Homo sapiens: one gene and its partner. Each later gene encodes a partner of the first gene's protein in a complex. Links are inferred from orthologs where the notes say so. Each region holds a gene or a part of one and is shown on either strand. Other genes may lie near its edges. The genes, in order: HTR2C and DLG4.

Region 1 (14,550 bases):
TTAACTGATTACCTACTATGGGCAAGGCACTTATCATATATGTGGGCTAGTCAACAAAAGCTTCCTGCAAGAGGTGGGGCTTGAAACGGACCTTGAAGATCAGACAGAATATAGATACATTTGGGAGAGAAAGCTACATACCACAGTACTGGACTTCTCCAATCTTTCTAGCAATAAATTCTTTTTTAATCACGGATCAGGTTTTTTGTCAATTTAAAATGGAAGTAAGAAATGGAAGTAATTGGTTTGGTTTTTGAATTTTTAAAAACCTACTTTTAAAAAGACTTTAATCATATTTAGAATTTTTCCAAGTATGGTCTTTCTACCCTGAAATAACTTTAGTCTAAGTATTGTACTCAGATATGGTTTTTCTACCTGGGCTCAGATCAGTAAACTAAAAAACTGGCAGTTACTTTTTATAGCACCTATTTTCCAAGTCATAGCTATCAAATTACTTTTCCTGACTCTAGTATGAAAAGGAAATACATGGCAAATGGGATCAGACAAGACTTGAAACCTTCCTGATATATGATAAATAATTTTTAACACAAACTCAAGATTTTATTGTCTTCATAATAAAACAAAAGATGACACTTAGAAATGGATCACTTGGACCTTTCTCTTCTTATCTCTTCCCAGTTCAAAATGCTTGCATCTTTTAATGGCAGCATTCTCTTAGATTTGCAGTTGGGATCAGTGCACTCAAGCCTTAGCACAATATTCTTTGTAGTTTTAGCTTTTTTCCGAAAAATTGGCTTAGTCTGCCCACCATATTCACTGCGCTGCCTGTCATAATGCTGCTTTCCCTGGGCATACAGAGAATCTTTGCCCTTCTTGTACTGTGTCGTTTTGTGGGGTTGGTGCTAGCCACACTTCTTTAAGTCTTGTGAGTTTTAGGAACATTCACCATGTTTTCGGGAGCACTATCGGTACGGAAAGAGATAAACGATTTTTACTGATCCTTCTGTCAGTCGGTCTTAGACCTTCAGAGCTTCTATTTTACTGCTTGAATTTCAAGTAGGCAATATTATATAAATGACAAATATGAATGGCCTTTGTTGTGGTGTTACATGTAGTAGAAACCTGTGGGTCCAACTCACAGTAGTAACATCTGCCTGTCCAGTCATCTCTACATACAATAGCATTATTTCCCTGACTTCATTTCTGTCTTTGTATTATCTCTGTAACTCCCCTGAGCTTCACTCAGCTTCTTGTCCCTCAGTCTCTCAGCATTAACAGTACATTCTCATTTGCTCTACTTCTTTATTGGTAGGTGAATCTCTAGATGAAATGTTGCATGTCTGTCTCATTGCCTTGCCAAGCAGCATATCGAGGATTAATGGACATTGTCCATTAATATCCTCACATTTACATGCAAATTTGTTCTGTTAAAAGACTAGTTGTTACAGTATGAAAGAAAAATTAGCCAATTTCTAAACAGAGGCAATAGTTTGTTGTTTAACACCACGGCCTCTGGAATAAAACTGCCTGGTTTCAAGCTTGGTTTTGTTCATTCAGTTTGAACAGATTAACCTCTTTGTATGCCTCAGTTTCCCTAACTGCAAACTGGATAATAGTAGTACCTTCTCATGGGGTAGTCATCAGGCTTGTATGGTTATATACCTGTAAACCTCTTAGAACTGTGTAGTGCATGGTAAATGTCAATAAATAGTGGCCACTGTTACCATCTTTTATACCTCTCCTCTTAAGAATAATTACTTGCTAATTTGGGCAAGTCTTACTACTTTGATTACAGGAAGCTATAATTGAAGAGTATTCAGTGAGTCTTGATTACTGAGATAAAATGGGAGATACGTAAGTTTAAAATACACTTGCAAAAGATTTGAACACTGACATTTATTCGTAAGCGTTTACTGATTAGTTTAAAGAAGACATCATGTTTTATGAAAAAGTAAAGGAAATCCTAGCCAATTCATTCATTGCTATCCTTGTCTAGATATTAGTTGACATTATCTTTGGTTTCAGTGGTGTTCAGTTTTCACTTTTTATTTTTACATTGAGCTCAACCCCACACCTTGCCATTAACGCTAATTCAACTCTGAATTTAAATACCCATATATGGTGGCTGTTGCACTGGACAATGCAGTTCTAAAGGCTTTCTAATAGCTTTCAATAAATTTATGCATAGTTCTTAATAGGTAATAATAACAGTATGTTACCCAAAGGTGTACTTGTATTTAAAGGAGACAGTGACTAAGATGAAAGAGGGAAATTCCTGAATGTAGAATTTCAAGTTATATGGAAAACCATGAAGGCTACTAATTTAGGGACCAGAAGGCCTTTCGAGTGCTTCTCAAATTAGACCATGTAAGTGGTCATCTATGCATAAGGTTAACCATAATTAAGAAGAATGACTGTTTCAAATGCCAGCTATATGTACAATGCTATAATACGCAACTATTTTAGGAAACTGCAGATGACACTGTCTTAGCCACAGCTGAGAAGAGGAATGAATAGCGAGGTTGAAGTAGAGATGCCAGGTAGGAGACAAAAACAGAATTAAAATTCCATCTTGTGTATATCTTATTTGAAATCCTGATTTCACTATGTCGTTTGTGCATTAAAATGTCAGAAGTGATTAGCAAAGAGTTGTTGCAGGTGAGCATTAGTATTAAATCTGCTAATGACTTGCCAAATGATGATGCAGCTTAACCACTTGGTTGTTTTCAATGTTGTTTGTCTAGAATGGAGATGACTAGACTGTCTTGCAGCAATGTTCTCAGTATATGAAAAAGCCTTCTTAAAATGTCTTGAAGAATGGCAGTGTTGGAGAGATCCATAACTTGAGCACACATTAGACTGGAGATTGATGATTTCTTTTTGAGGTTCAACAGTACAATATGTAGATGAAATGACATAGGTAGCCTAGAATGCTAACAAATAAATAATAAATGTTGCTTAGTGCAATAATTTAAAATTTTCAAAGTGCTTAATACCCATCTGTTTCACAACAATCAGGTGGGGTTATATATGATACTGACATAAAATATCACAATAATATATTATTAACTTCAATTTATGATGAAGTTTTCCTAGTTTGCTCATGGCTACCAGGCAGCTAGAGGAACATAATTTAGCAGTTCTTCCACTAGACAATACTAAGCTGTATCAGATGCTTTACTAAAATAATCTCAGTACACGTACATCATCCTTTTGTGAGGTATTCCATTGCTATGAAAGTGAGGTGGTAAGATGCTCCTTAATAATACTGGACAAATAGTCTGGAGCTTCAGGAGCCATTAAAACCTGGGAATTAATTTATCTTTCAGCAGGCTCAGCAAACTGCAACCTCCTTCAATCTCAGGCCTTGAACAATTTAATAAGAATAGCTGAGGATATTTAATGTTGGTTACTATAATCTCTCCCCCAAATTTTGTTTTAATTTTTGTGTTTCCCTTAGCTGGAGAGGGATGACGTTTCCTTGAAGGAAATACATGGAACAGTAAAATTATTGAGGCTTGACTCAATTATAATGTTGGATGAATCTATTAGAATGTTAGGCTTTTTAGATTTTACTTTTATTGCTCTTCCCAAGTAGACTTGGAAGCACAAATAAATATTTCTTATTCTCTTGCCTTAAATTAACTTTTGAGAATACCTTGAAAAATTGAGGGGAAAAATCTAATGGCACCGATAAAATGGAGGATAATAATATCTCCGTCATTCATAGACTTGCTATGAAGACTATATGAAATAATATATATTTTATGTATATATATGTAATAGTCCTGGATCCACGTCTGGCATCCAGGAGGTTCCCAGAAATATCAGTTCTCACCTCTTTTCTGATGAATTCATACTGCACAAAAGCCTGTTACATTATCTGAAAAAGTCATCACTGTCATCCATGACACCTCTAGATGGAGATAAACCCCTCAAGAAAGCATAGAAAGGGTTAATAACCCTCTCTAGATAATGCAGATAGAAAAACACCGTCATTTTTGCTAAAGCACCCCAAATCCTACCTTGACATTGCAATCAACAAGCCTTATCCACCTTCCGAATTTCAGGACTTGCGTTGGGCTTGTTGCTGTAGATGATAGACGCTATTAGGAAAGAAATCATGTTGATGAAACAAATATTTTCTTCCCTCCCCAGGAGGATCAGGAGAATTTATTTAAGGAATGAAAAATATAATTAAATATTCTATAACCTACCTCCCCAAAATATGGACAAAATTATTTATTTCCCCCCACCTGTGGGGTGGAATGGGGGGGCATTGTAGATGATTCCCAAACAGCCAGGTGCTAAGGAGATTATACTCTTCAGAACAGACAATATTCAGTATGATTTCAGTACTGCAAAAGAGATGCAATGATCACGGTAGATATCATTTTCTGTGGGGCATGTCAGTTGGCCTTTGTCATTGTCTCTACACATATGTAGCCAACTACACAGTAACACCTTGTTTCTATTGCACTCATATTTTGATTGTCAGAATGGCTGATATGTACGTAAACTTCTTCATGAAAAATTTAAACTCTGGAGCCCAGATATCTTTTTTCATTACCGTGTATGTGAGGTCGCAATTGTCTGCAAACTGGGGAGCTCAGAGGTTACTCAGTGCGCCGCATTTCCTCACCCCCCGCCCCCCAAATCATCTTAGCTCAACCATATATGAGCGTCCCTCGGTTAGCCTGCCTAAAAGGTATGAGGTAAGGGGCATATGCACTTAGTGGCTCAGCAATCAGAGGCTTCCTTGGATGGGACTTATACTGGTAATATTAATGAAGAAGCTGCGCGGTACTGGCAGTGATTCCAGACCAAATCTTTTAACTGCCGAATGTCACTCGCTGAATTATGAGTTGGGGAGCTCTGTTGCTTAAAATACAGGGTTCTCAAACACAATGCAAGTGTTTGTCACCTCAAGTCGCATACTACCCAACAGGAAGCAAAAGGCAAAGGGCATGGCGCAGAAAAGAAACAGACACACAGACACGTTTTGCAATGACGAACTTTATGTGACATCAGGAACGGCAACCTGTTCTCATGTTTAGCAATTCCGAGGAACGCTGTAAAGACTGCTTGTCAGGTAAAACTGAGTACAGGAATAAGAGGCAGCGCTGGAGACTTTTTCGCAATCCTTTTCAAAATATAGAACAGTAACCAAATGACTTAGATAAGCTAATTAATTATTTAAAAAAAGGTTCACTGGATGCCTTTATCCTCTCCTCTTAAGCTTACGTGATCACCAGCAGCGCTGTTCAAATTCAGCTAACAGCTGTTAGACCAAACACAGATCCGCAGTGTGTTATCTCCCCAGAGTTACGGATGTTCGCTGAGACCCGCCAGAAAAATTAGGGTCGCTTTTCAATGAGAACATAATAAAGGATCCTTGGTTCCCCCTCTGCACACACTGTCCCAAACCTTGCGCCCCCTCCCACTTGCCTGCTGTCGGATTTCTTAAAATTGTAGTCGGTCCTGCAACTCAGTTGCATCTTCCGCAGCCCGACCCTCTACTCAGCGACATTGCGTTCAGTTTCCCTCCTTTCTCTCCTCCCACTCCTCACTTCTTGAGACCCCACCCCCGCCTTCCGTTTCTGTCTCGGCTTCCCCCGCGCCAGGTTCTCTAGACCCCCGCCTCCGCCCAGCGTCTTCATCTCGAGCCCCCGCTCCCAATCCCCTTAGAGACTTCTATGCTCCTTCCGTGGAACCTAAGCTCCTCTCTTCTTCCAGAGACTCAGTCTCCTCGCGATTTGCGCGTTCAGAGTCCCTCCCCCCAACCTCCGCTAGGGCCAGTGCGGTCCTGCAGGCTGCAGCCATCCGGGACCTGTCCCCGCTCCCCACCCCATCCCCCGCCTAAATCGTTGGGGTCTCGGCTAGCAATGCCGCCCGGGGCTCCAACTTACCACTAGCGTCCGGGAGGAAGACCAGGCAGCGGTCGCCGCGGCGGCAGCTAGACGAGAAACGGACTCGGCTGCAATCGCCCAGCGGAGCCCGCGGCAGTCGGTGCGCTGAGCTGCGCTGCGCTGCGCGCCGCAACCTCGCGCCTCGGCGGAGGGAGAGGAATGGAGGGAGCTCGGCGCGATAGGAAGCGCCGGCGAGTCGACCTCCTTTGGGTGACCGTGCGCCCCCCGGCTAGGTTTGGCTCTTTTCGCTCCGCTATCTTACTCTAGCTTAGTAACTGACCACCTCCAGCATCTCTGCACTAATCGCGTCTTCTTTCTTCTTCGTTGGCCCCTAACTAACTACACTACTCTAAACGGACGAAGGCCATCACACGAGCGCCACGACGATCGCGACGACTCCGACGACAACGATGTACAGACAGAAGAAGAGTTCATATGCAATCGGCAGGTAAGGGGCAAGGCAGGCCAATGGAGCAGCCAAGGCTAGCAATCTAGCCGCTCCAAAGGCAGTATCGGGAAGATCGGTGCATCTGAGGAAGGAAGCGTCCTCGGCAAGCACCAGAGCGCCTACCTCGCGCGGGTGAATCTGCACCACGCTCTTGGGCCAAAAGCGGGATGAGGGGAGGAGCCAAGAGCAGCCAATCAGCACTCAGCATTACGTGGCCCCCGGGCCTGTTTGGACCGGTCTCTTAGTGCATCTGGAGCCTGCTGGCAGGGGGCGCGAGACCCCATGGTGGAGATGGGGGTGGGGGTGATGATTAATCTGATTCACAAGGCCTAGAGAGTAGGGGGAACCAGGATCAGCCATGGCACCGGATAGAGAGAGAGGGAAGGCTTTCTCAAGAATGTACCCTCAAAGATTCATAGCATACCCCTCCCCAAACACACACACACACACACACACACACCCCTGTACATTTCATTTCAACAAACAGCATTCTCAAGTCTTGCAAATTTCATCAAGCTTTGAAACTCCCTTCAAGGGTCTCTGTTCCGACTCTTGCCCATTCCTCCAACAGTAGCAACTGAGGCACTCACAGGGTCAAACATTTGGTGAGTGCGCAAAGGCCACAATCCTGTTATAAGGCCCACTTCCCCATCCTTGTCTCCCCATCCTTTCCCTAACCCCAAAGGAGAAAGAAAAGCTCTTGGCCTTCGAGCCCCGGGAAGGCACAGTTTAGTTCCTTTCTTGACCCCACAGGCCTCATTAGAAAGACACCTTGAGGGCAGCTCTTACGGGTTTCCAAGGGGGTGAACATATCTCTCTGGCACAGGGCCTTGGGCCCACAGCCAGTCGGTTGCCCAGTCGTTGTGGGGGAGGGAGGGGTGCTGTCAATGCAAGGTCAAGGCAGCAAGAGGTGAACCACAAAGGCTCTCTTTTGGCAACTGCTGGGATGCCGAGCTGCAACCGGTCAGGCAGAGCTCTAACCGGTCAGGCAGAGCTCTTTTTCACAGGCTCCCAGGCGCAACCGGGCAGGTGCCTGCGGTGTCCTGGCGGCAGCGCAGAGAAGGGTGAACGGGGCCCCCTTGGCTCAGAGGCACCAAAACCAAGCTGAGTAATGGAGATGATCCCACGGAGAATGGGGACAGAAGCAGATCTCTCCTAAGAGGGAACGAAGGGGCGAGCGGGGGTGGTGGTCTCGGGTCGCGGCCGAGGTTTCTCGGCCCTGTACCGAGGACCGGGGTGGGAAAAGTGGAGATTGGCTCCCCGCCTGTCGGAGGTAGCTGGACCGAAGCAAAAGATCGAGCCTCCGGTTTGGCTACTTAGGACCGGACGGCAGCGCAGCGAGTGTATAGAAGAGGCTACAGAGAGGCCGTACAGAGAGAGGCTTGGAGGACCTAACCCGGCAGAACGCAAAAGGGGTGGGAGCTGCCGGCTATTCTGAAGGCCGAAGTTTGCCTCAGTAGCCCCAAAAGTTAGAGATGGAGAAGGAAGTGGAAGCAATGATAAGGGTCAGGCCCCTTCCTTATTCTGGATGCCCTAGGAACAGTCATTTCTCTCTGTGCCTCTGTTTCCATATTTGTGAAAGGAGCTGTCCAGTCTATTCCAAAAGGGGCATTTTGGGAATCCTCTGATTCCCTCCATCGCCACTGAATTCAGGCTTTGAAATTTAATTTGGCAGTGAACATACTGTCGGCACCCAAGTTCTGTTTCGAAAAGCAAAAACCCATCGCAGTTTTCTTGAAGCATCTGTTGAATGCTGCTGTATGATGCCGCACAGGTGGCTGCGACAGCGCTGCCAAGTCCACCGACTGCACAACGCTCGCATCTTTAGAAATGCTTTGGTAGCGAACAGTAATTTATAAATATGGAAGAGAAAACGTATGTCTTCTCTTTAAATAATTAAGCACTCATCTTTAAAAACTCCCCAAGTGTCCCCTTACTCTATGAATGTGGAATGCTTAGTCTTGCCTTTTCTGGCGGGACTCGTATTTATTTTGTCAGAGGCTGAGACATTTATATTACTTCAAAAAATGTAAATATAAATCCCTGTGATATTTTTGCTAAGCCAAAATGGATCTGCCGAGCAGCGAGTGGAAGTTAGCATCCGCCAAAACCTGTTCTCGCTCCCCGGCTCCCGGGGGAACCGGCTTGGAGAAATTGACCATGATAATAGCAATTATGAGGATGAGGATGATGGTAATAATAGTTTTTATTATTATATATTTCGCTCTAAAGGCTGTTCTCTCCTTCTCCTTGTGAAAGGCAAAAGTGCCGAGAGCGACCAGGGGTGAAACCCACGTGGTCGTTGGGAAGGTTCCCGCAGCAGCAGAGAGAAAGTTTGCTAGCCACGCGGCTTGCTGAAGCACGTCTGGGCTTCGGAGGTCGGGTAGAAACAAGCAGGCACGTTAGCCTTTGAGCGGCGCTCGCCGAGCGGCCCAGAGCCTGTAAGACTGAGCCGGAGCGGTCCGCGGCGAGGCTCGGGGTACCGGGTTCCGCCGGGACCGAAGGCTCTGCTTTCTTGGCATTTGCGGCGCGTACTGCCTCTTCAGGTTCTCTAGGCTGCGGCTCGGCAGAGCGCTGCAAGGTCCGACGGACTTTGGAGATTTTGGCAACACCAGACCAGAGAATTTAGTGTAAGGAGAAATTTAGGGCGCACTTTAGGACTGGGGAAGCAAACTCAAAACAAGCACATGCTGGCGCTTTCTGTCGCTCTGTCATTGCCAGAGAGGTTTTCTGGAACCCCTGCCTAACGAGGCCTGGGGAGTCAGCCCAGGGTTTTCACTGCTTTCCTTTCCGTTCCTCAGGTGTATGGAAATTGTCCCTGGAAAGAGGAGTTATTTACAGTGAATTCCTCAGGTTTGATTAAAATCCCCAGTGCCCCCCGGAACACGGTTTCCAAATATTTCCCGGTTTCTAAGGCTGTGGACTTGTTTTTACAACTTTCGAACCGGGGCGATTTCCTCCTACTACAAATACATATGTTTCCAAAACTACTGATTTAGAAATTCGGGAAAGAATTAAAGAAGATTGTTACTACGTAGGAAAAAGTTCCTCATCATTTGAAACTTTGGGAACTTTTTAAAAAAATAAACTGACTAGAAAGTTTACTTCTCTACTCATTATTATTTCCCCCTCTTGACCAGAGAGCCCTATTTTAACACACCTAAAGGATGACAGACAGGTTTAAAAAATGAGTGACAGGATTCTAGCAAAATTCTCGAAGGCAGGTATTTTCACAGATCAAAAGAAGCTACACAAGAATTCTACCGGGAGTTTTTTTTTTTTTCTTATTTACCACCGGACATAAATGCAAGGAATTTTGATAATACTTCTACCCATATTTTTTCAGTTTTAAAGCAAATTATCATAGCCAGATATGTTTTTGGTAGTAATACAATTGTATCAAATTATATTTTCAGCATTCGCTATTACTACTTAATCGTAAAAACCCAGCATCAGATCCATAATGTCCATCGTTGAGGCATGCCACACCTAGAAATAAACTTTTATGACATCGAACACAATTGACTTTTCCCTTACTGTGCCTCAAACATGGTCATAGACTTAGAAAAAAATCTTAGACATAGATAGCTTATTATACACAGTCTTTTTAAAGTTGGTAGGATTATTTTTAATAAAAAAATAACGCAGTAGAACTCTGTGTGCTGTGTAGGAAGGCAGGGGGCAGTCTCTGATCGTGTCAGTCTCTGTAAGTGAAACTTCTGTTTGGAAAGATCTTCTGTTTTAGAGAAAAACAACAATCAACACTGGTTCTCTGACGCTCTCATTGAAGAGAAGAGAAAAATACTGGAAGCCTTTTGGGAGGGGGAGTTGGAAGTTCCCATTGAAGGGAAGAGAAAAAGACTGGAAGCCTTTTGGGAGGGGGAGTTGGAAGTTCCCATCACATATTTCTGCCACGTCTAAGGAAAAAAAAAGGTATATCACAATTAAAAATCTGTGCTTATTTCTTTTATGCAAAAAACCGTATTTAATTAATTTTATCTAACATCCTTCTAGTAATACAATATGTATTTTGTGTAGTTTCCAGTAACCAAGTATATGTTTGAAAAAATAGCAACATGCATGCAAGTTTGAATAGGGATTGGGAATGGAATCTTGTAGCCTCAAAAAGGAGAAAGAGCTAGGAGCTACTTTGACATCAGTTCTGTAGGGAAATATGTGTTGTCTTGGAGCGCATTCGTGTTATGACGAATGCATTTTGTATTATAGGCATGCATTTCACTCTTCCAGTTTAGGATAACAAAGATGGCAATTAGGACCTTTTATTTAAATTAAACTGAGATTGAAAGTCCAGGACTACAGTGATTTCTTGTTCATTCTTAGCTCAAGACTACTGGTCGCTGAAGCCCAGTAGTCTTGCTACCCATATATCTTACTCTGACTCTTTCAGACCATTATGATTTCTACTTCCCATTTCTGTAATAATTAGAGCTATAACCATGCAACCAAACATTTCCTTGTTTCGGAGTTATGTCTAAAGTAAAGTAATGGGCTTGGTTTCTCTGGTCTGTAAATCAATATCATTACATTATTTCAAATGAGTCGCAACATCACTCATTGCTACCGAATCCCTTCTTTTCTTTTTGTAAGAACTATTCCCTCAACCAAATTATAAGGATCTCAGGAGGAAGCATTTAACCATAAGCTTCTCTTCTCCTTTTTTCCACAACTATCCTAATACTTCGCACAAAGAATATAAGCAACAATGATAACTACCATTGTTGTTATGCAAGAGGTTAAGATGAATGGTCAAGAAGGGCTGGACTTCTAAAACTCGAATTTTTCAATGACCTGAATACAAATGTAAAAGATGTTTTACCAAATTGGCCCTTCATGCAAAAAGATCATGACAGTTTGAACCGACCAAGATGAAACTTAATAGTAATAAATAGTAATAAATGTGAGATGCTCAATTTGAGTATCAAACTTCTCTGCACAAATTTAGGTCACCGAAGCTGGGAACATTTGGTGAAAAAATACTTATTGATTTTAGTTGACATCAAGATCAACAAGCCTTCAGTGTGATCTGGTTGCTGGGAAACATAATTTTATATTGAGCTTTTGCAACTTTCATAAAAAGAGTCAAAATGCAGTTGGGCTATATACGGTATTTTCAGGCACATACTTTAAGAATGAAGATTGGAATTCATTTATCAGAATGATGGGAATTCATTCACAAGAATGTTCAGATCAGTAGAGTGCTGGAATCATGTTAGATGGGTTTGTATCATCTGGAAGACATGACTCTTGGGTTACATGCTAGCTGACTTCAAATATTCAAGGGATTTTCTTAAGGAAAGTGGATTTAATTTATTTCCCAAGTTTGTTATTCATGTCTTATTTGTATCTGTTACCTCAGTGTCTTGCACAATGTCTGACACAAACTAAGCATTCAATAAATATTTGTGAACTGAATGAAACTATAAACATTAAACTCTGAAGAGAATAAAACTGAATTTAATGAATCCACAGTTTCTGGCTCTAGAGGAGGATTTTATAGCATTCAGAACTATCCAAAGATGGCATAAGTTGTTTCAGGAGGTAGTTAGTTCTCCACTCTTGAGATGTTCAATGCTACAGAGGTTAATCTCTTGGTGGGGATGTTACAAAGGAGAACTATGTGTGAGGAAAGAGAAGAACACGTGGCTAATGAATGACATTTAAAGCTCTTTCCAATCCAAAATCTTGCACAATGAATAAATGCTATCTTAATCTAATTTTATGACATAAATAGATATTGAACTTTCTTAAAAACAGAGACAAAAAAAGTTATGTACTGCAGACTGGCCATATAGATTCAGCTTTGTCATAAGAAAGAAGCAGCCTCCTACCAAGTCACAAGACACTTTTGTTGAGCCTGTTGCACTTGATAGCTACTGACTTCGGTGGAAAATAATCTCTGGGAAGCTTATTATCATGTTAGTATACTATCACTCTTTACAAGTCTAGAATGCTACAGATGGTCCCCGACTTACGAAGATTAGACTTACAGTTTTCTGACATTAAGATGATGCGAAAGTGATACGTATTCAGTATGCTTCTTAACAATTTTCCTTTTTCCTCACCAACAAATTTGAAGGCCAAGTCTCTACACATTTCAAAGGCTGAAACAACAAAAGTTCATTTAAGATGATGTTTTAAAAACAAGTGATAGCAAATTCCCTGTCATCAAAAACTAAAGAAAAATAATATGGTAAATAAACATTTTCTTACCATATATACACATTTTATTTATAGACAAGTATAGAAATCTTTCATTTTCTCCAAGTGGAGCTTAATTTGAAGCAAAAGCCAATATAGTAATGACTAGATGCCTATTGTCATCTAATGGCAGCCCTGCAGTAGAAGTACCTGAGTAAAAGTTTATTTTCTGGCCTTTTGATTTTTGAATCAAAATTATTTTTACTGTTTATGCATCTTCTAGTCATTAGTAGGAAAATGATAGTAAACTTTTAATAGGTGATCTTGTAAGGGAGAGTAATGAATTCTTACTTGGTGATAGAGCAAAGCTGTGGGGCAAGATTTGCCAGAGAACACAACTTTGTTGGTCTTCCAATTTGACCAGCATTCTTCATCTACCAAGATAAGATTCAAAAATAAGCCTTTATCCTTTAGAGTGTCATACTCAATAATCAAGAAAAGCACTGATAAATCAGGGACTAGATAGTTTAGTCTATCATTGTTAATTTTGTCTATGCATTTTTTATTTCATTATGACCTCAAAAAAACCTTATTGTCAATATAACTTGGCTGAACTTCCAAAGATACAAGGACAGAGGTGAAAAAATGTAGAGAAGTACCTCTCATATTCTTTCAAGCCAAGCCACACAGTGGGAGCAGTATTACTATCGTCTGGTTTGATTACAAAGTATAATGGTTGAGTTATATCAGTAGTCCTGATATTTTGAGAGTTTTTAATTTTTTTAAAGTCTGTGATATCAAGTAATGTGGTATTCAGAACATTACAGTAAAACATACATCTAAAAATGGTTTGCCTTTCAAAGACTAGACATTTCAGTGACGCTATGATTCGTCAAAATATTTCTTAACATCTCTTTTGAAATTGCCTTCAGAATATGCCACATTGTTTTCAATTTTTGGCAAAAGTCTATGTCATTGAGAATTGTGTCTGGTGATTAACATTTTATGATCCGAATATTTTGTTGAATCAAGTGAAAGCACATGACCTTAAAACCCTCTGGAGGAACAACCAAAACAAAAACCAGTGTCTTGCTTATGTCATTCTTGACAGTGACAATTTACCCTGGAGTAGGTGAGAGTTTTCTTCCATTTGTTCTATCCTCTTATGTGTCTGCTCTAGTAGAAACTCAAAATGTAAGTTTGCCTGGAAGCTTGTGCACAACAAAGATAATATTTAAGGCAATATTTCAAAAACTGAAGCGAGAAAAATAGTATTTCCATGGAAGTACATGTCACCAATCTGGCTATTAACTGTATTAATATAGTAAAAGTAGAATGAGTATAGTCTCCCTCACTCTCTTCCAGAAGAATGGAAGGATTAATGATCTAAGTTAGAACTTCTGAACTCAGCATTCAATTACATGCTGTGTAATCTGTATTATTTATAACTTCACAGTGTAACCATGGCTAGAAATCTTTTAAATTTGAAGGTTCAAAAAATTATGTTGGTGCATATGGTTTGGAAATTTGTAGAAGAACCAATAATATGTATATAATCTTTCACAAAGCTGATCAATAAATTTATTTAAGAAAGCTTTGCTCTAGGAAGAAATGAACACCAGGTGATTTAGCGACCAAATTCCAAATTAGTACACAAATTAACCTATGGTTTTGATCTTGAATATGTCGGTTCATCTGTTGGCTGCATTTAGAACAGAAAAGAGGCTTAAAGTACGATATTGGATTTATTAAAGAGGCATTTTGTCTGAAAAAGTGACCTCTATGTTATTGCAGATAGTGTGCCGCAATTCAATCATCTCTATCCTTAAGATTTTTTAAGTGCGTGACTTCTTACTTTGCTGCAATCTAAACTCTGACTGCTTATCTAAGAAAGCTAAAATATACACCATGTGGTACAAAAAATGATGACTACAGAGACAGTTTGATCAGATACCAGATTAAAATGCAAATCAAAGTAGACCAACCCCTGTTGTAGATGAAATGCAACCCATTACTTTTTTAAAGAACCATGAATTTTAAAAGTTATTAAAATTAAGAATACTACATTATCAA
Region 2 (15,306 bases), on another chromosome or scaffold:
CTCCTTCACGGCTCCTGTGGCTGGATCTGTAACTGGTGTCTTGGCAAAGACCGTGAAGATGTCTGCTAGGCCCCCATTACTGTGGAAGAATGGGATATTCAGGGCGTGGAGGACGGGGAGCAGTGGGGCCTGGAATTGGGCGGAGGAGAAGGGGAGAAATGGGAGGCAGGTTGCCTGATCCAAAGCTTGCTTCCATTGAGGGTATAGTATTTTCCACAGGGGCTGGGCACAGCAGAGGTTCGGATGGAGGCTGCATCTGACCCGCTTGAGGGCTCGGTTAGACAGAAAGCGGCCACAGTCTCCCCTGTTGGGGAGAGAGCTACTTTACCCCAAGTTCTGATGAGCTTCAAAGTCCCCTCGGCCCACTTCCCCATCCCTCCAGCAGGCAGTTCCCCCTTAACACCTGGGAGTATCCAGTTCTTTTGCATGTCCCAACCAGCACACTGTGATGCCTCCCCAAAACCTTCCCCCAACTGAAATGCTCAGCCATCTGATAATCTAAGTGCCAACTGGCCTAATCTGTGCCAAGCCCAGTGTGCCCCCCAATCCCTGGCTCTCCTAGGGTTGCCTCACCAGATGCCAGCTTGGGGAGGTATTTTTCTTTCTGGGCCTTTGTGCCAAAGAGCAGGATGCCTTTGAAACCGATGCTCTGATGGGCCCCCAGGGTAATGCCCACGCCAAGGTCATGCATGCCCACGATCTCCACCAAACGGGCGTACTGGAGGGGAAGCAGGAATCTGGGGTTGTCACTGGCTGCAGGGGGACCTGACCTTAACAGGAGAGTGTGGGCAACAGGGCAGTTCCTGACCTAGGGCAGTTCCTGACCTAGGGCAGTGCCTGACCTGGGCCATCCCCAGTGTGTAGAAAAGAAGTGGGGTGTGCAAAGGGCACAGCAGAGAATGCTGGTCTGTCTTAGGTCTAGGTAGGAGGGTGACTTGCTACTAGTCAGTCTATTGTTAGGCAATCCCCAACTTAGAGATTTGTAAGGACTTGGGAACCAGGGTGAGGCCCATGGCTCAGGCCTAGGGGACTGCATGTAAATTGTGTTATGTTTGGACAGTTAACATCCATCCCACAGGCACCCAGGGCAGGTGCTTAGAAGAGACCTTAGCCCTAGTCTCTAGGTCTATGGCAAAAGAGCTGAGTCTGCCAAGCTGGGGTATGGCATACTGGGATGTGGCGATAGGGCGCCCTCACCTGGGTGTTGCAAAGGCCCACACCACCCAGCTCACTGGGCACTTGCAGACCAAAGGCCCCCAGCTCCTTGAGGCCCTGCCAAGTGGTCTCCTCCACCATCTCCAGAGCGTCATTCTTGGCGGGATCGTTCACTTCCTGGGGAAGGCACAGGATCCCACATCCAGGCTCCTTTTGAGCTTAACATCTCCAAACACCTCACCAGGGACCAAGCCCCGAGTCATTCCTTACCTCGAAGAAACGGGACACAGGCTCCACCAGCTCTTTAAGAAACTGTGTCTGCTCTTCGTTGAGCACTGCAGAGGGTGGGGGACAGGCTGGTCAGGCCAGGCTGGCAGGGGAAACCACCCTGGCCCCACCCAGCTCTGATTATCCCTTCCCTTACCGGACGGGTATGGGAACACCTGATCTGTGGTGAGCTGGCCTTTGAACATTCCCACAGCAAAGGACTTAGATTCCTGGGCAGAGAGAGGCAAATTTCAGGGCTCTGGTTGGGTCTGGCTAAGGTCCACCTGGCCTCGGGGCTACCTACCGCCTTGGCCGGTTTTTTCCTGGTCAGAGCGTCAGAGGGGTGGGAATCTGACTTGTCCAGAGCCAGCTGGGAAAAGAGACGGTTAGCAAGTTCAGGGAAGGGACTTCCGCTGTGTCAAGGGGAGAACAGGCGAGAGCCGCGCGGGGAGGCGGCGCGAAGCGGTGACCTTTCCCCTAGTTTCGCCCTAGGGCACCCTGGCTTGCCCTTTCCCCTACTTTCGGCGACTGAGCAGTAGGCAGGTACCTGGCACCAAGAGGGAGATCCCTGCCGATGGCGGGCGCCGAAGCGGACCGCCGCTCCCACACCCCCTTGCCAAGGCTGCGGTGACTTACCTGAGCGGCACCCCCGGCATAGGGCCGCCGGGCAGGGCCGGGCCGGGGCTGCCCCAGGAGCGCCGTGAGCCGCGAGCTGTGGGGAGTGGGGGTTCAGTGCCGGCCCGGTGCCCAGGGCCGCTGCCCACCGTCCCTCTTGTCACACACAGACCTTCCGCCCCCGAGCCTCAGCAGCTGCCGCCCCAAGCTCGCGGCCATCCGAGCCGCCTGCATCTCCGAATCTCTCCGGGCGCCGCTGGCTCGAGCTCTGACCCAGCTCTGGCGTCCTGCACGCCCACGTCCTGGCGCCCCTAACCCTGACTCATCGTCCACAGTGCACCGGGCGGCGGACGGTTGCGGGCCCCGGGGCATGCTGGGAGCTGTAGTTCCCTGGAGCCCGGCCCTGCGTTCCGCTGACTTAGAGGGATCTCCAAGCGTCCCTCGTCTCCCCCAAACTCCTTAATCCCGCCCGTCCGACCTAGAGTCTAGTCCTCCGACGGGGTGATGGGATAGGATGGGACAGAAGAGGAAGGGGCTTAAGTCACTGCAGCCAGAGGGATGGAGGTGGACTGAAGGGAGGGCTTCTCCGGTGGGGTTAGAAGGGAAAAGTAGGGAAAGAGAAGTGTAAGGTAGATGGCAGAGGCAGAGACATGGAAAGACAGACTCTAGGGTTCCTGATGAAATCTATCTCGGCCAACACAAAAGGGAGGGTACAGTGGTGGGGGGCACCCAAGCTAGGGTGTGAGTACCCTAAGTGTATTCTTCTGAGATGTAGGCCATTCACTAACTCTTGGAACAGCTACAGTTTCACAGTAGGAAGACCCCCCCAGATTCACTGCCCCTCCCTTAGTAAAGCCTCTGAGACCTTCCTGAACATTCCCTTCTGTCTTTGCCCTCTGTTCCTTCCAGAGACCATGTGCCCAGGCAGATGGATTCCTCCCGGGCCTGAGAGGAACTGCAGGAATTCTCCTGCCTCTTACCCGTAAAACCCCAACTTCTCTAGCCCTAGGGCAGGAAGTCCCAAACAATTTCTACCCCTTTTTCTGCAATTCTCATTGGGGTGAGAGGAGGCCCAGGAGGAGAGAGAGCTGGGCTCAGCTTCTTTTTGAGCTGCTGGAGCCCTCTGTGAGGAGGCCCTCTTTGCTGGCTTCTCAGGAGAGCGTGGCTAGGTTCTGCCTGCCTATGGGAAGAGGGGGCCAGGGTGTGTGGAGCAAGATGGTGGCGGTGCTGGTGCCTTGGGACCTGGGGGAATGGGACAGCTGGTCGGCTCAGAGACGGCCTACTTTACTCACAGCTGGAATTTAGTGGGGAGAAGCAGCTCAACTCCAATCCTGGAGGATTAGGGAGATTAAAGTGAGAGAAGAGAGAGATGTCCCAGAGACCAAGAGGTGAAAAACAGGGCTCCTTGTGGAGGGGAGGTCTGGGAGCGAAGTGGGGGGCTGGGGCTCGGAGATCCTTCTCCCCAAATCTTTCCGTAGGGGCTGGGGTGAAGGGCACAGTCTGGGGAGATGAAGTGACAGTGTGTTCATCTTCCTGTGTTGGCATCTTCCCTGTCCCAATTCTCCTTGCATCTCACTAGCTCCCAGGTCAGCCCTCTGGCTCCTGGCACCCCCACTGCTGCGGTGGGCACCCCCACTCCTCACAGTGCTGCATAGCGACCTCTTCCAGGCCTTGCTGGGTGAGTAGCCCGTTTTCTGAGGGACCTGGGCCTCCAAGGGCCATTACTGAACTTCGGGGGCTGTTTGGGAGCCCAGAGATCATTTGGTCCAAGCTGGAGCACCATGCAGGGTCCTGCCTATGGTGTCCTCCATGAGTGTGGACCAGCCTTGGCTGAAAGGGCTCCTCCCTTGCCAGCCAGCCAGCAGCGGTGATGACAGGGGTGATGTGCCTGGAGAGGCCTGGGGTGGGGAGGTAACTCAGTTCTGTTCCTGTGACAGACATCCTGGACTATTATGAGGCTTCCCTCTCAGAGAGTCAGGTAAGGAGGTGGGGGCGAGCGCCTAACTTCCTGAGGGGCAGGCAGGGCTGGAGGGGTGAGCCAAATATCACTAATATTACCTGGAATCTTGGGGGCCCTGCTGACAAAAGCCTGAGTCAGTGGCCCAGGGACTTGGGGCACCGAGAATGCACTCTCTGTGGTCCTGTACCCACTCTCCCTTTCTTCCTCGTTTTCTTTGGCTGCCCCAGTTTCAGGCACTAAAGAGTCTAGGGCTTAACTTTTTAGGTTTCCCCCTGAGAAACCTGAGGGAGAACTAGGCCCCCAGGGATTGCCTCCTTCAGCTCCTCCCTCACACCCGACCCCCTACCGCCTGCCGAGAGGCCTCCCTCCCGTATTCAAATAACCGTGGGTGCTCCCAGCCCAACTATAGATGCTTCCTTCTCTAAGAAATGAAATCCAGCCTCATCGTCTTTGCTGTCATCGCTGGTGGCTGGCCAGGTCTCCATGTTTGCCTCAGGGGCCTCTGTGCTTCTGCTTCTATCTCCTTTCCCATTATCCGGGTTCCTGCCAGCACAGAAGGAGTTAACTCTGCCAAGGCACCCCCCCCATTCTGGCTCCTAGCTCCCTCCCTCCCTCCCCCTGCTTCCTCTCTCCTCCTCTCTCCCCTTCCCTCTTCGGCTCCACGGCTCCCTCGGCCGCTGCCGTTTCCAACCCCCCCACCCCACTCCCCCGCCACGGCCCCTAGCCCCTGGCCGTTTGGCAAGACCCCCCCCTACCCCGGGGCTCCCCGAAATCCAGTTCCCCTCCCCCACCCCAGCTCATGCCCCAGCCCCCGAACTCCGGGGCTGCCAGCCCCCGGTGCCCCCGCCCCTCCTGAGAATCGGGGTGTGCTCCCCAAGCCCCCTCCCCTCCACTGGGGAGCCCCTTTTAGGGCCCCCTTCCCCTCCCTCCCACGCTCCCCTCCCCTTCCCTTCTCCAACCCCCTCCTTCCCCTCTCACCCCTCCCCCCATCCTGGCCCCCCCTGCAAAAGTGGGGTGCGGAGGGGGGAGGGGTGAGAACCCACGGAGGGGAGGAACGAAACTCCGATGAAGTCAGAGCCCCTTACCCGCCGCCGCGGCCAGGCCCCCCAACATGGACTGTCTCTGTATAGTGACAACCAAGGTAAGCATGATGGGGGGGCTATAAACTGGGGGGAGGGTATGAGTTTGTGGGGAGGGGTTAGTAGGCCTTATCTGGGACTGGCGCCCCTGGAGTGGCAGCATCAGAAGTAAGATGTATTTGGGGGTCTTAATTTAGTTTTGGGGTTCACATCTGAGAAAATGCAGGATTTGGCCACAGGTGCCCCCTGGAGTGATCCCTTTGTACCTGTAGGGATATGGAAAATTTAGGATATTCCATGGTTCGGGGGGCCTGGCGGGTTTGGGGGTTCATCAGCGCTGTTTGAGGGAGACTTATTTAAGGAGAAGCCTGGCTCATAAGGGAGTCCTGCTGGTGTATGTGGGAAGGTGGGCTATGTTGGGGGGTTCCTCTTTCCTCCCCAGGGAAAAGCTGGCTTCCAAGGGCCTTGTCCAGTTTTGGGGGGCTCCTGGCATGGGGTAAAGGTTATTGGTTGTGAGTGCCTGACTGATCTGGGGGTGTCAGCTGGCAGGGAAGGGGTGGGCCTTCAGACTCTAGAACAAGCATCTCGTGGTGGCTGCATTTAGGGATGCTCTCTCAATTTGAGGGAACTGTTAATTTAGGGTTCAGTCATATAGAATGGAGGTAGTTGGAAGTTGTCAGAGGGCTGGGGCCCTGGCATGGGATCACCTGAGGGAATGGACCAGGTGAGGCAAGGATTTGGGGGTACTCCCATAGGAGGCAGAAGATTGCAGCAGCCGAGCTTGCCAGCCCCTGAGGAGGAGGATGAGAGGCTTAGGGAGAGAGGGGATTTGAGGAGGGGGACCGGGTGGGTGGTGCACAATTTGGGGGTGGCCCAAAGGCAGGTGCCCAATATCCCCATCTCCTCCCACACTGTATCTAGCCCTGATCAAGAGAGAGGGAGAAGAGCAGATGTGGGGACTGTTCCAGATACCCCTGACGCTTGGGATCAAGGTGGGGGAGGACACCTGGATTTAAGGGTCCCTGAGGGCTTATGACCGAAGTTACTGAGGTTACTGGGGTGAAAAGGTGTAGGAGGAGGGCAGGGCTGGCAGCGATGGGGATCTGTGCAAGAGTGTCCCTCTGGTTGGAGCCTGGCAAAGGCAGGAGATCTCGGATGGAGCACAGGCGAGCTCCTGGTGGGATGCAGATACCTAGGCTCTCCTTGGAGACTCTGGGACTGGAGAGCTGGATGCCTGGTGTGTGGAGGGAGGCTTGGGCGGGTGGCAGGCAGCTGGGGGCTGGGGGGTGGGACAGGAAGTGGGGGCCGGGGGAGGCGGGGTCCGGGTGAGTCACAGGCTGGGGAGGGGGTTATATTTAGTGGGAACTGCAGCTTTTCATGGGAGGGAGCTGAGGACACACATGTTCCCTGCCACAAACTCACACATGTGTGTACACATGCATTGTGCACGTGTGAGGATGGTTGGAAGAGATTGGGGGCTGAGGACCTTTAGATCTGGAGCCCCCACCCTCTCTCCACCAGGGCGACTTTCTTGTCCTTCATTCTGTGGGTTTCGGGCTTTCTCCCAGGCTGCCTCTTCCCCACATCCCCTGTAGTTTCGGTGGATTTTTATGCCTCAGTTTCTCTGGCCTGGTTTCCTCTGCTCCCGCTGTCTCCTGCCCTTAGGCCTGTCACTTGGCCTTAGGCTCCATGGCTGTGGTCCCCTGCATTCCAGGTGTAAATAGAAAGCCCGCTGGAATGTGTGGGCTCTGCTTCCAACACGTGAACACACAAATGGGAGCGAGGGTGAGGGGCTTGCCAGCAGGCAGCTATTCTGGGTGGGTGGGTGGCCTTATTCATTACCCACTCCAGACTCCTACTTCTTCCATGGAGCCCAGGGTTGAGCATCCCTGAAGGAAGGAGGCTTACAGAGCAGATCATGCATTTGGGGTTTACAGAGGCGTGGAGACCCAGGCTTGCCACATTCCTTGGCTGGAAAACTTGTCAGCCTCGGTATGGTGGGGACTCCAACTCCCATAAGGCCCCGAGGCACCAGATCCCTCAATGTTAGAGGGTTGCTGCCCATGGCGCTGTTGGGAGTTGTGGTTCATCTCTATCCAGGGCAGCCAGCGGAGGGTAGCCCAAGAGGAGCCTGCAGGGGGCACATGGCTCCTGCTTCCCCAAATGCTGGATGGGGTAGGGAGTGCTCAGGCTTTGCGGTCGTTGAGCTCCCCAGCTCTGCCTGAGTCTTCCATCTTTCATTGCCTATATTTAGACTCCTGCCGCAGTAATTTAAGGAACATTTATTGAAAGCCTACTGCGTGCTAGGCCCTGTGTTGTGTGCAAACTCCACTCTACAGCGATCACTTTGTCTTTCTTGGTGCCTTTATCTCTGCCAGAATCTCTCGTCTCTGAGCATCTCTTTCTCCCACTCCGCCCCCGTCCCTCCCCCTTTCCCCGCGCTGCTGCCGCCGTTGCCATGGTAACCGGCGACGACTGAAGCTGCGTGGCGGACTGGAGGGCCGGGCGAGGGTGGCGGAAGGCGGAGCAGAACAAGTGGGGGTGGGGATACAGTGGGGGAAAGACTGAGGCTATTTGCCAGAGCCCCAGGAGCGAAGCGGTTAAACCCTCCGGGTGGTCCTTATTGGGCAAAGCCGAGATGCCGGGGGCGGGGCAGTGTGGCCGACGGCCTCATTCATTGGCCGTCAGGGGCGTGGCGGAGGGACAGTGTGGGCGAGGCAGGGGGAGCGAACGGGCGGGAAGTGGACGGAGGCGTGGCCTCCCGGGCAGGTGGGTGGGGTCTGGCTTACTCTATCGAGGGAGGCAGCAACCTTCGGAAAGGGGAGGAACCTTGGGGCTGGGTTACCTGACCGAAATGAGGGCGGGGCTGACCTGGGATGGGCGTGGCGTGGCCCCCCGTGCGTAAAGGAGACAGGGTTTGAGGAGCTATTGTCCAAGTAACTTCAGGGCGCGGGGGTCTTTGGAAAGGAGAATCCGGGGGTTGGGAAGTCTGACGTCTCAATTTTCCTAAGATGGAGGTCTGTTCAGATTTCATCAGAGCACCCCTCCTACCTCAGCTCTGTGTTCCCAGGAGACGGTTGCTAGGCGACGGCAAAGTCCTTGATTGCTGCGTTGCCAGGCAACAGAGAAACGGAAAATGGAGGGAAAAGGGAAATGGGGGATGGGGAAGGGTCTTTATGGGCCATGGCGCCCACTGGTGGATAAGCAGGGCCTGCAGGTTTTCTATTCTAGAAGGAAATTTGAGTCCAGCCCCTTCCGCACTGACTCCTTGGATCCTCTGGTGATCCAAGCCTTCCTACCAGATATGAAACTAGGACATTGGGGGTCATCTTGGGGGCGCATGTAACAGATGCCGATCAACGGGGTCAATCTCGCTTGGGTGAGATTCTAGGGAAGTCGTCATTTCTACCATGTATGGGCATTTTATAGAAGTCAGCCGATTTGAGGAGACCCCTCACTGGGTTTTAAGAGCTGGAAGGGTGGGCGTTCAATGGGAGAATATTTGGAAGAGAGGCTTTCAGGTTAAGTTGTTTGGGAGAAAATGGAAATCTCTGAAGAGACCTGAAGGAGGCGGTTGGGAGTGTTCTGGACGATTTGTGGGTCATTGCAGATTGCCGGCCGTATCTTTGGTGTGTATTTTTTGAGGCCTGAGTGTGGAGAAGATATATTTGGGAGCAATCTTCCGACAAAGTTGGAATTCAGAATCGTGGAGGGGATGTTCTGGGCAGACAGAAAAGGGTGTAATCTATGAACCTCAGGGGTAAAGAAAAGGAGAGGAGGTGCCGGGTGCGGTGGCTCACACCTGTAATCCCAGCACTTTGGGAGCCCGAGGCGCGCGGATCATGTGAGGTCACGAGTTCGAGACCAGCCTGGCCAACATGGCGATACCCCGTCTCTACTAAAAATACAAAAAAATTAGCCGGGCGTAGTGGCGGGCGCCTGTAATGCCAGATATCCGGGAGGTTGAGGTAGGAGAATCACTCGAACCCGGGAGCCGGATGTTGCAGTAAGCCGAGATCGCGCCATTGCACTCCAGCATGAGCAACAGAGCGAGAATCTGTCTCAAAAAAAAAAAAAAAAAAAAGAAAGAAAGAAAGAAAAGAAAAGGAAAAGGAAAATACTTTTAATTAATTAATTATTAATTTTTGAGACCGAGTCTCACTCTGTCGCCTAGGCTAGAGTGCAGTGGCACGATCTCGGCTCACTGCAATCTCTGCTGCCCAGATTCAAGCCATCCTCCTGCCTCAGCCTCCCTAGTAGCTAGGATTACAGGCGCCTGCCACCGCGCCCGGCTAATTTTTGTAGTTTTAGTAGAGATGGGGTTTCACCATCTTGGCCAGGCTGGTCTGGAACGCCTGACCTCATGATCCAACCGCCTCGGCCTCCCAAAGTGCTGGGATTACAGGTGTGAGCCACCGTGCCAGGCCAAAATTTTTTTTTTTAGAGATGGGATCTCACTATGTTGCCCAAGCTGGTGTTGGGCACCTGGCCTCCAGCGATCTTCCCGTCTACATTTCTTTTTATAAGAGTTTTGGAAAAAATTGACGAGATTGCTATTTAATTTGGAGGGTCTGCTTTAAAGTAGATTAAATATTTCCTGAAATTGGGTTCTGGTGTGGATTTGGAGACTGGCATATTAGGAAGTCATGAGTATCTTATTAGATTCGGGGGTTTGGACAGGGGATCCCCAACAAATTAGAGGACTTGTTATTTGGATGTTTATATTAGAGCAAGAGTAATATTTGCACTAATTGCAACATCCCTGTTAGTGGATTGGGAGATAGATGTGATATAGAAAGGGATGATTTAGCATATATTAATTTGGGGGGCCAACAAGGCTCTGTGGTTCCTTAAACTCTTGAAGAAACATGGGCTGCCTATCAGGTGGGGCTGGACTGCAGGGGAGAACTATGCTGGTTAGAGTAGGAGATGCCTTGGAATCTGAGGAGATGCTATCCACAGCACCAATCTTGCGGGGGTTTGGTGGGAGAGGCAGTGTAGATCCCTTGGGGGTTCTTGTGAGAGAAGTGCTGTTTGTTTCCCTGGACTCTGGGAGGCCAGTAGTGACGAGATGTCCAGTGAGGTTTTGGAATGGTTTGGGGTCTCGCGATGTTGGGGTTGGGGGATTAGATGGGATGGAATAAGGGGTCCCTGAGAACTAGAGAGATAAACTGGTAAATTTAAGTCTGTCTTTAATTGTAGAGGGGTCGGAATAGAAGTATACTGTGGAAAGTGAAGTTCACAGAGAAACAGCGTGAACCAGGGAAGTTGGTGGCTAAGAGGGTCTCCCCTCACCCCTCTCTCCCAACGTGACGCTCTTCCTTACTGCGCAGGCGCCGTCACCCCCCCCCCCCCCCCGCCGCAGCCTCCAGTTGCCGCGGCCGCCGCAGCCCCCGCCCCTCTGCCCCTCCCCCTCCCCCAACCCCCGGGACCCTTGATATCCCACCTACCCCCTTCCCTCAGTCCCCCTCCCCTTCTCCATGTCGGCTCGGAACAGATTCGCCTCCATGTGTCTCTGCGTGGTACGTGCCGCGGTATGGGCTCCGGCCCGCTCCCCCTTCCCGGACCCCCGCAAATATCAGGGTGCAAGCTTCAAGCGCTGTCGCTCTTCCTTCTGCTTGGTGCGGGGTCTCTGGGTTGCAACTTCTCGTGGACAGGCGCCGTGGGTCGCCCCTCTTATCATTCACTTTGACTCACACCCCTATGTTTTGGGGGTGCAAGCCTCAGTTCCAGGTCATTCTGTGCAACTGGGGCTCTGGTGAGGAGGGGGCCAAAGGGGAAGGAACAACAGCGACTCCGTCCGTGTCCCCCATTCCCCAGGCCTTTTACTTGTTTTAAGCCCTAATATATTGGGGGTGCAGATATGTCCCAGTAGCATCTGAGTTGTCTGGGTTAGGGCCCTGAGTCCCAGTAGGATAAAGGATGGGGGGGGTCCTCCTTTCCCGTCCTGCTTTAGTTGCCCTGTAATCCAAGACTGAGAGGTGCTGATCCCCCACCGCCCCAGCCCCCCAGTCTGCAGTTTCAGAATTACTCTCCCCCGCCCCCACCCCCACCCCTCCCGACGTTTCTCCCCGCCCCCCTACATGTACGTCGAAAATTTCCAGAGACTGAACCTAGTCCCTAACCTCTTCCAGCCACATTCTGGAAACCCTGGCACCCATTTCTTGTTCCCCATTTTCTCCATGTTGCCTCCCAATCCTGAGGAGCCTTTTCTTCAGTGCCAGACACCACCCTCCCTCCATGGGGGTGGGGCAGGGAGAGGTATTGGGGGCTCGCTGAGATAAAAGTTTACCTTCATTTCCTCCCTAGAATAAATGATGAAATGGCCCTCCTCATGTTTCCATTTTCTTTGGGTGCACGCTGACATTTCCTCCTCAGATTCAGGAATTTTCTCTCTGAGGTGGAGTGAAGATGGAGAGGCACTGGACTCAAACCCTCCCCCAGACTCCAAAACTTGGAGCTTTGGTCCTAATTTACCTTGCAGGGAATTGGAGGCCTTGTGAAGGAAGAGTGGATAGCGGAGAGCGGCTTCCACCCCTTCCCCCAGGTCTCAATTCTGGGGCTTGCCCCTCAGCTTGTGCACTGCCCAGGTAGAAGACCACCTTCTCAGGATGTGGAATGAACAGTCTCTGTTGGTTCATAGAACTCCTTTATTCAAGACAGCTCAGCCTTGGAGGAGGGCTATTTTGTGTGTTCTCCTATTTTCCTTCTCTACTTTTTGTGCCCATCGGATTGAAATCTGGAGTTCAGGATTCTCTCCAAGTCTGTGGCCCAGAGAATAGACTCAATCTTGCTGAGCCCGTTTTCCTTCTTTAAGACTCTTTAAATGTATCAGGGTGCTTCTTGATTTGAGTTGTCTCTGTGTTCTGGGTTTGAGAGTTTTCGTGCTGACAGGACCACTTCCCTTCTCCCATTCTCTTACTGTACCCTTACTCTACAGCCAAAGTTGTGTTATATTCTCAGCCTTGATTCATCATCTTTAACATTTTCAGAATCCTACTCAAGGATTGGCCATTGACCTTGATAAGCTTCCTCCCATTTGATCTCGCAGCTGCTGCCCTCTAAGTATTAGGGCACTCTCAGCCTCTCAGAAACTTTTGGGAGGGAAATTCTGCTCGCCCTCTCTCTTTTTTGTTTTGGAGATGGAGTCTCACTCTGTCGCCAGGCTAGAGTGCAGTGGCATGATCTCGGCTCACTGCAACCTCCGCTTCCCAGGTTCAAGCAATTCTCCTGCCTCAGCCTCCCATGTAGCTAGGATTACAGCCATGTGCCACCACGCCCAGCTAATTTTTGTATTTTTAGTAGAGATGGGATTTCACCATGTTGGCCAGGCTGGTCTCTGACCTCAGGTGATGTACCCACCTCGGCATTATAAGCATCAGCCACTGCTCCTGGCCTCTCTCTCTTTTTGAGACAGGGTCTTACTCTGTTGCCCAGGCTGGAGTGCGGTGGCGTGATCATGGCTCACTGCAGCCTCCACCTCTTGGGCTCAAGCAATCCTCCCACCTCAGCCTCCTTAGCAGTTGGGACTACAGGTGTGCACCACCATGCCTGGCTAATTTTTGTATTTTTTGTAGACAGGGTTTCACTGTGTTGCCCAGGCTGGTCTCCAACTCCAGCTCCTGGGCTCAAGCTGTCTGCCTGCCTCAGCCTCCCAAAGTGCTGGGATTGCCGTGCCTTCTCTTTTTACCCATGTGTACTGGGCGGTGCATTCTGTCTTCTTCAGTTCCTGAGGGATCCCTGCGTATGATACCTTCCCCTTCCTGAACCTGGAGCTTGGAGGGTCAGTCTCTGTGGAGGCCCGTTCCAGAGGAGAGGAGCAGGCGAGGGCAGAGGCGGACACGGAAGGACCCAGGCAGAAACGCTGTCTTCTTCTGCTGTCTCCATCTGCCCTTTTCCTCCTTCTCTGGCCCCCAGTTAATCTCATTTTACTGTTGTCCCTATTAAGCTAGCACAGGAGGCCCTTGGGATGGCAGCTGATTAACTGGGCAGGGAGTCAGGGGTCATGTTGGGCCTTTCACCCCAAAAGAGCAGAGGGAGACCAGAAATTCACTCTGAGGCTCAGCATGCTACCCTCCTCCCCAACCAGGGAGGCTGGCACCCATTCTTGCCCCTGTCCTGAGCCCTGCTGTCTCTGTTCTTCCCCTTCCTCCCCCAGCCCATGCCCTTATAGCATAACCGGATTAGCTGGCTGGGCTGTGGGCTGTTGCAGGGGTAGGGCCAGACTCCCGGGGCCCCTCTGTTGACTGCTTGGAAACCAGCAAGGGCAGTGAACTGGACAGGCTTAGCCTTGTCCTGTCTCGGGGGCTGATACCAAGTACCTTCTGGTGGAAGGGGTGACTTCAGTCCTTGCCTAAGGAGTGCAAGGTAAAGGAGAGCCAATCACCTGTGGGGTAGAGGCTGCAATGGGGAGACTGAGGCCATGGAGGTGGGGCGCGGGGAGGATGCCATGCAGAGTAGGAGCAGCCAGAGGGGTAGGGGAGGGGAGGCTAGAACAAGAGTGAGTCTGAGATGGTGAGAGAAGCAAGGAAGTTGGGGACTGGAGGCAGAGAATGGAGATGTGAGTGTCGGGGCTAGAGCTCTGAGAAGCTGGAGGGACTCGAAGATGAAGGTGGTGGGGAAAGGGGTGAAGACACAGATGCCAGAGGGGCTATGCCCACCAGAAGGCCAGTGTCCCAGGATGTGAGGAGTAGGAGTTGGGGGATGGGATTGGGACCTGGGGATTGATGAGAGGTGCTGAGGCCCTGGCGGGAGAGGGGGCTGTTGGGAGAGTGGAGAGAGGGGAGCCAATGGGCTAGAGGAGAGGGAGGGGGAGGAGCTGGTCAGGCCCCAGGGCCTTCCGCACTGCACTGGCTGGGGGAAGAGGCGGCGGCCAGGGCGGCCAGCCTGGAGCCTGAGGCACCGGGCTGGCCCCAGTGACACCTCCGTCCCCATCCCCAGAAATACCGCTACCAAGATGAAGACACGCCCCCTCTGGAGCACAGCCCGGCCCACCTCCCCAACCAGGTAAACGCCCCCGAGCTGGTGCACGTGGCGGAGAGGAACTTGTCCCACCTCGAGGCTGGCCACGGGGTCGTGGGCCACGCCCACCTCTCCCCCTTCAAGGTAGGAGACCCTGGTGGCCCCCTCCCCAGTGCGGCCCTCGGAGCCTCGGAGCTGCAGCAATCCCTAAGGGCCGGTAGGGTGAGAGAGAGCCGTGGGGAGGGGGATGCTGGGACTGGGGGCGGGGGTTTGGGGCTTGGGCTCCTGGGGTCTGGGGGAGGGGGCGTTTGTGGGGCTGGAAACACCTTGGTCCCACAGAGGAGAAACAGGCCAGGCCAATGGGAGTGGATGTAAAGCCTAAAGCAAGAATGTGTGTGTGCGCGCGTGCCTGTGCGCGTGTGCTGTGTGTGTGCCTGTGCGTGTGTGCATGCATGCGTGCCTGTGTGTGTGCTGTGTGTGTGTGTGCGTGCGTGCGCCGTTTGTGTGCCTGTGCGTGTGCTGTATGCGTGTGTGTTGAGGTGTGTGCATCCCCCAAGAGGCCCCCACGCCTGGGACCTCTTCATTCCTTCACACCCCCAACCTCCATTTCCATTTTCTGTGTCCAGAGCTCTGTTCCAAGCGCCTGCTGCCCTCATTTGCTCTTGTCCCTTCCCCGCCTCCTCCCCCTACCTCCGCCTCTGGGCCTGGCTCGCCCTGTCCCCAAGTCTCCAGCTCTTTCCATCTGTCTGGCCTGAGACTTCACATGGTGGGGCCTTGCTGCCTCGTCCCCTGCCCCAGCTTTGCTCCACTCCTGAGTTCTCTTCCCCCTCTGCAGCCTTTCCTCCCTGCTGGCTGGCTGGCTGGCTGGCTCTTGATGCTGTCTCTCTCTTCCTCCCACGCATTCTCCTCTCCCTCTCCCTGATCCCCAGCCCAGGCCGCTGGGGCCTGATCAGTCCTTTCCCTCATCAGTCCTCTCCCTCCATCAGCCAGCTCCCCTTTCCCATGTTCCCTCTTGCCTATTCATCTTCACCTTCCCTCTTTTCCTCCTCCCCTCTCTCATCCTCTTGGGTTCTCACCTCTGCCATATCTTCTTTCTATCCCCCTCTGCCCCCTCCATCATCCCCCACCACCTGTTTCCCTTTCTCCTCTCTGCTCACAGCGTCCTCCTCTCTCCAGTCCCGGGAGGCCTGGTTTCTGGGACCTTCCATTCTCCAGTCCACTTTCCATCTTCCCCTTCCTCCATCTCCTCTTCTGGGGACACAGGATGGG

Evidence for each region.
Region 2: the proteins of HTR2C (region 1) and DLG4 are in contact, whole or in part, in an NMR structure (PDB 2MHO), measured with the Rattus norvegicus proteins. The link is inferred for Homo sapiens from one-to-one orthologs. Residues at the interface, in NP_036897.2 of Rattus norvegicus: Val452, Val453, Ser454, Glu455, Arg456, Ile457, Ser459, Val460; in NP_062567.1 of Rattus norvegicus: Gly74, Leu75, Phe77, Ser78, Ile79, Ala80, Asn85, Pro86, His87, Ile88, Thr97, Lys98, His130, Val134, Leu137, Lys138.

Annotation. Positions count from the first base shown.
Region 1 is NC_000023.11:114,575,980-114,590,529, reverse strand, and holds the start of HTR2C (5-hydroxytryptamine receptor 2C isoform a precursor), read right to left. Parts: upstream 6,445-14,550; 5' UTR 5,871-6,444; intron 941-5,870; exon of another isoform or gene 545-940; intron 1-544. UniProt on the Homo sapiens protein: G-protein coupled receptor for 5-hydroxytryptamine (serotonin).
Region 2 is NC_000017.11:7,206,950-7,222,255, reverse strand, and holds the start of DLG4 (disks large homolog 4), read left to right. Parts: upstream 1-4,628; 5' UTR 4,629-5,082; coding exon of another isoform or gene 5,083-5,108; coding exon 5,109-5,138; intron 5,139-14,016; coding exon 14,017-14,082; intron 14,083-14,984; exon of another isoform or gene 14,985-15,301; coding exon of another isoform or gene 15,302-15,306. Other genes in the region: ACADVL (very long-chain specific acyl-CoA dehydrogenase, mitochondrial), read right to left, coding at 1-79, 175-304, 574-718, 1,198-1,332, 1,426-1,490, 1,580-1,652, 1,727-1,792, 2,059-2,134 and 2 more. UniProt on the Homo sapiens protein: Postsynaptic scaffolding protein that plays a critical role in synaptogenesis and synaptic plasticity by providing a platform for the postsynaptic clustering of crucial synaptic proteins.